Linked DNA regions of Homo sapiens: region 2 is linked to region 1. A link means that fine-mapping ties the variant in region 1 to the expression of a gene that starts in the linked region. Tissue or cell type: whole blood. Region 1 holds a variant in brackets; the other region holds the start of a gene. All regions are shown on one strand. Distances are from middle to middle.

Region 1 (2,683 bases):
AATGCTTTTTTTTTTTTTTTTTAATTTTTTTAGTATTTATTGATCATTCTTGGGTGTTTCTCAGAGAGGGGGATTTGGCAGGGTCATAGGACAATAGTGGAGGGAAGGTCAGCAGATAAACATGTGAACAAAGGTCTCTGGTTTTCCTAGGCAGAGGGCCCTGCCGCCTTCCGCAGTGTTTGTGTCCCTGGGAACTTGCGATTAGGGAGTGGTAATGACTCTTAACGAGTATGGTGCCTTCAAGCATCTGTTTAACAAAGCACATCTTGCACCGCCCTTAATCCATTTAACCCTTAGAGGACACAGCACATGTTTCAGAGAGCAGGGGGTTGGGGGTAAGGTTATAGATTAACAGCATCCCAAGGCAGAAGAATTTTTCTTAGTACAGAACAAAATGGAGTCTCCTATGTCTACTTCTTTCTACACAGACACAGTAACAATCTGATCTCTCTTTCTTTTCCCCACATTTCCCCCCTTTCTATTCGACAAAACCGCCATCGTCATCATGGCCCGCTCTCAATGAGCTGTTAGGTGCACCTCCCAGATGGGGTGGCGGCCGGGCAGAGGGGCTCCTCACTTCCCAGACGGGGCGGCTGGCCGGGGGGGGGCTGCCCCCCACCTCCCGGACGGGGCCAATGTTTTCTTCTAATAGTTTCATAGTTTCAGGTCTTTTATTTAAGCCTTTACTCTATTTCTATTTGATTTTTATATATGGTAAAATATATAAAGTTGTCTAGTTTCATTCTTCAGCATATGAATATTCAGTGTTCCCAGCACTATTTAATGAAGAGACTATTATTAATATTTCTCCAACGTATGCTTTTGGTGCCTTTGTCAAAAATGAGTTGGCTGTAAAGGCATGGATTTATTTCTGGGTTCTCTATTCTGTTCCACTGGTCTAAGTGTCTGTTTTTATGCCAGTACCACGCTGTTTTGGTTAACTTTGTAGTATATTTTGAAGTCAGCTAGTGTGATACTACCAACTGGTTTTTTTGCTCAGGATTTCTTTGGTTATTTGGGGTCTTTTGTGGTTCCTTATACTTTTTTTTTTTTTTTTTTAAAGATGGAGTTTCGCTCTTGTTGCCCAGGCTGGAGGGCAATGGTGTGATCTTGGGTCACCGCAACCTCCG[C/A]CTCCCGGGTTCAAGCGATTCTCCTGCTTCAACCTCCCGAGTAGCTAGGATTACAGGCATGCAACACCACACCCAGCTAATTTTGTATTTTTAGTAGAGATGGGGTTTCTCCATGTTGGTCAGCCTGGTCTTGAACTCCTGACCTCAGGTGATCCACCCACCTTCGTCTCCCAAAGTGCTGGGATTATGGGCATAAGCCACCATGCCTAGCCCCTTTACACATTTTAGTATTGTTTTCTCTTATATCTGTGAAAAATGTCATTGGAATTTTGATGGGGATTACATTGAATCTGTAGATTGCTTTTGGTAGTATGAATATTTTAACAATATTAATTCTTCCAATCCATGAACATGTGATAATCTTTCCTTTTTTTTGTGTATGTGTGTACTCTTCAACTATTTTTTTCTTTCTTTCTCTTTCTTTCTTTCTTTCTTTCCTTCTCTCTTTCTTTTTTTTTTTTTTTGAGACAGGGTCTCACTCTGTTGCTTAGGCTGAAGTGCAGTGGTGGCATGATCATGGCTCACTGCAGCTTCAACCTCCCAGGCTCCAGCGATCCTCCTACCTCAGCCTCATGAGTAGCTGGGACCGCAGGCATGTGCCACCATGCCCAGCTAATTTATGTGTTTATTTTTTGTAGAGATGGTATCTCCCTATGTTGCCCAGGCTGACCTTGATCTCCTGGGCTCCAGTGATCCTCCTGCCTTGGCTTCCCAAAATGCTGGGATTACAGGCACTGTAGCCAGCCCTTCCTCTTCAATTTCTTTCATCAGTGTTTTATAGTTTTCATTGTAAAAATCTTTTACTTCTTTGGTTAAATTTATTCCTAGGTATTTTTTGTGGCTATTGTAAATAGAATCACTTTCTTAATTTTTTTTCAGATTGTTTGTTGTTGGCATATGTAAATGCTACTGATTCTCGTATGTTGATTTTGTATCCTGCAACTTTACTGAATTTCCTTATCAGTTCTAAAAATATCTGGTATCTTTACATTTTTCTAAATATAAGATTGTGTTGTCTGCAAACAAGGAAAATTTGACTTCTTTCTTTCCAATTTGGATGCCCTTAATTTATTTCTCTTGCCTAACTGCTCTGGCTGAGACCTAAAGTGAGAATCTCTGCCTTGTTCCAGATCTTAGGGGAAATACTTTCACATTTTCCCTGTTCAGTATAAAGTTAGCTTTGAGTTTTTTATACATAGCCTTTATTGTTTTGAGGTATGTTCCTTCTACAAAAACTGCTGAGTTTTTGTTATAAAGGGATGCTGAATTTTATCAAATGCTTTTTCAGCATCTATTAAAATGATCACATGGCTTTTGTTCTTGAATCTGTTAATGTGATGTGTCATGTCTTTCGATTTGCATATGTTGACTCATCCTTGTATCTCTGGAATGAAACCCACTTGATCATGGTGAGTGATGTTTTTAATGTGTTGGTGGATTTGATTGCTAGTATTTCATTGAGGATTTTTGCATCTGTGTTCATAGAGATATTGGCTGTGGTTTTATTTTCTTGTTTTGTCCTTGTCTGGTTTTGGTATCAAGGTAATTCTGGA
Region 2 (2,683 bases), 600 kb before region 1:
TTAAAACTCAACCTAAACACTTCTCCAGGGGATGTGGCCAAACTGTGGCATGCTGGGGATTCAGTGGTCAACTGAACAACCCCAAGGTTCAGATTTTGGAGGGGAACCTGCTTTTAAAGAGCAAAACATGTTCCTTACCATGTTCTGCAAGTGCAGTCAACACACGCCTATCGGGCGCTGCTGGGATGCCAAGGAAGGTGATGGGAATTCAGAGATTAACCAAGCCAGTTCCTTCCCCTTCAGGAAAAGCCTCAATTCAGGGAGGAAACCGAAACCTAAAAGCCCCAGAACATCCTCTGATGTGGCAAGTGTTCAAGGAGCTGCGGTTAGCGCGGAGGGGTCCCGCGAGCCTGGATGACAGCAAGCCGCCCACCAAGGTCTGGGGAAAAATCTCCTTCTAACTAAAAAAAAGGGACCCGAGTCTCGCTTGTCCCGCGCCGGGGTGGCAAGTTAGTGAAGAAACCCACGAGAGTGAGATCCCAATCTACGACTGCCCCTCCCAGGTCCTCAATCCCGGGAGCCTGCTCCCATCCTACGAATCGCCTATCCCAGGCGACCCCATGTCTTCTTCCTCCGCCTCGGGGAGTCAGTCCCGGGAGCCCCATGCCGCAGGCCCTCCTGGGAACCCCCGCCGCAGGGCTCCCTCCCCCGCCTCGGGTCTTCCTTTCCTCGGCGCCCCCAGCGCAGGTCCGCCCTCCCGGGTGCCTCCCGCCGCAGGGCTCGCTCCTCGGCCTCGGTCCTCTCGTGGGGCCCCCTCCCTCAGGGCGCCTGGCCCGCGCCCCAGGTCGCCGCCCTTCGCCCCTCAGCCCCTCCGGAGCCGCTACCTCGGATGTTCTTCAGCAGCACCGGCTCTTCAAAGCCACCGCGCCTGAGGAAGGAGCACACCTGCTCCGGACCCCATGTCTTGTAGTCGGGATGGAGTTCCAGGCCCGGGGACCAGTCTGCCTCTGCGGAAGGGGTGTTTGAGGGGGTTCTCGGGCTGTCATCGCAACGGGGACGCTTGGAGGGCTGCTCGGAATCGGCTCGCTGCATGGCTACACCTGGCGTCCGGCACAGCAGTCAAGAACCTCGGCGCCGGACCCGCGCGCAGGCGCACTGACAGCAGGGCCCTGGCGGGGAGTCCAAGGAGTATTGGCAGCCTATTGGCCTCCTGCGCAGGCTCACTGACAGTTGAGCCCTTCGGGCAGGGCAGCCTAGCGGCTCTTGCCTTGGGCTCCCTGCGCAGGCGCAATGGCAGTCCAGTCGTCCTCAAATCAATCCCGCCAGGGCGCTGGACGTGAACGCGAAAGGGCGTGGCTAGAAGCAGAACTGAGGGCAGTGCTGGTGGAAAGGGGGAGGAAAGAGCGCGCCCGGCACCGCACCCCCAATTAGGGGCTCGTCTAGTGAATTGGGGGTATTCTCCTTCGAATGAGTACACTACCCGCCGCACCTTGGCCGGGTTTCAGATGCCCCAAACTTAAAAGAAGCCTAAAAGGCCGTCAGGCTGCCAGCACCTTCCCAGTGAAGAGGAAAACAGTCAAGGTGCTGAACTGGAAGAACCCGGAATGATTTCAAATGTGACTTGAGGGTGTCTTCATTCCACAGTATTGCTGGTCAACTAGAGGGCCCTGGGATACCTGTTGTCTGGTGTCCACACAGGAGGGGACTTCAGACTTCTTTCCAACTAGAGACAGAGCCCTCCATCCCAACTGCATTCCCAGAGGAAGGAAAGTGGCCAGTCTGATTACTTAAAATTTAACTTCTGAGGACTTTTACTGCCTGGTTGTAACAGCATGTGAAAATGGCAGGCATTTTCCCATCACTTAACCCCTCTGCGGCAGGGCTCAAACTTCCCTATAAATACTGGTCCATGCAATTGCCTGGTAAAAGGACATATCACTATTACTGTTAATAAAGCCAACACACCTTCCCAGCAACCAAGGCATAGACCTGTTTAGGGGGTCAAGGACGAATGAGGCGGAATAGCTTATCATCAAGCAGTATGAACTAGTGGTCTACTGGTGAGCCAAAATATTATTTGCAAACAGAGCTTTACTGTGTGCCAGGCACGGTTCTAAGGGCTTTACAAATATAAAATAATTTTATATTTATACATAATACTAAATGAATTAAGTACATTCATTAAATTATTTAAATATTAAATAATTTTTATAACTTCTAAGGGTTTTACAAATATTGTAAAGTTCTAAGGGCTCTACACATATTACTTCACTTAATTATCACAATTACCTTAGGATGTAGGAAAAAGTAATTTGCCGCAGGTCTTCTTTTTTTTTTTTGAGACGGAGTCTTGCTCTGTTTCCCAAGCTGGAGTGCAGTGGCGTGATCTCAGCTCACTGCAACCTCTGCCTCCCAGGTTCAAGTGATTCTCATGCCTCAGACTCCCAAGTAGCTGGGACTACAGGCGCCTGCCACCACACCTGGCTAATTTTTGTATTTTTAGTAGAGACAGGATTTCACCATGTTGGCCAGGCTGGTCTTGAACTCCTGACCTCAGGTGATTCCCACACCTCAGCCTCCCAAAGTGCTGGGATTACACAGCCGTACCCAGCTGCCCAAGGTCTTACAGCTAGGAAATGATGAAGCCTGTATTCAAACCCAAGAGATGTAACTTGGTTCCAAAGTCCATGGTCTTGATAACTTGCCAACCACTGCTTGTTAAAGGGGGTTTGGGGCTGGGTGC

Evidence for each region. PIP is the estimated chance that this variant, and not a neighbour inherited with it, causes the effect.
Region 2: SAMHD1 starts here. The variant in region 1 is fine-mapped to the expression of SAMHD1 in whole blood (INTERVAL, PIP 0.97).

The regions. Positions count from the first base shown.
Region 1 is chr20:37,550,121-37,552,803 of GRCh38, forward strand. No RefSeq gene overlaps it. Among named protein-coding and RNA genes, the nearest start is that of LINC01746, 20 kb to the right of the region's middle. The variant C/A (reference allele first, on the strand shown) is at 1,131.
Region 2 is chr20:36,950,612-36,953,294 of GRCh38, forward strand. It overlaps SAMHD1 (SAM and HD domain containing deoxynucleoside triphosphate triphosphohydrolase 1), which reads right to left and starts at 1,097. Exons shown (of 16, transcript NM_015474.4): 1 at 825-1,097. The coding sequence starts at 1,032. RefSeq lists a silencer at 592-811.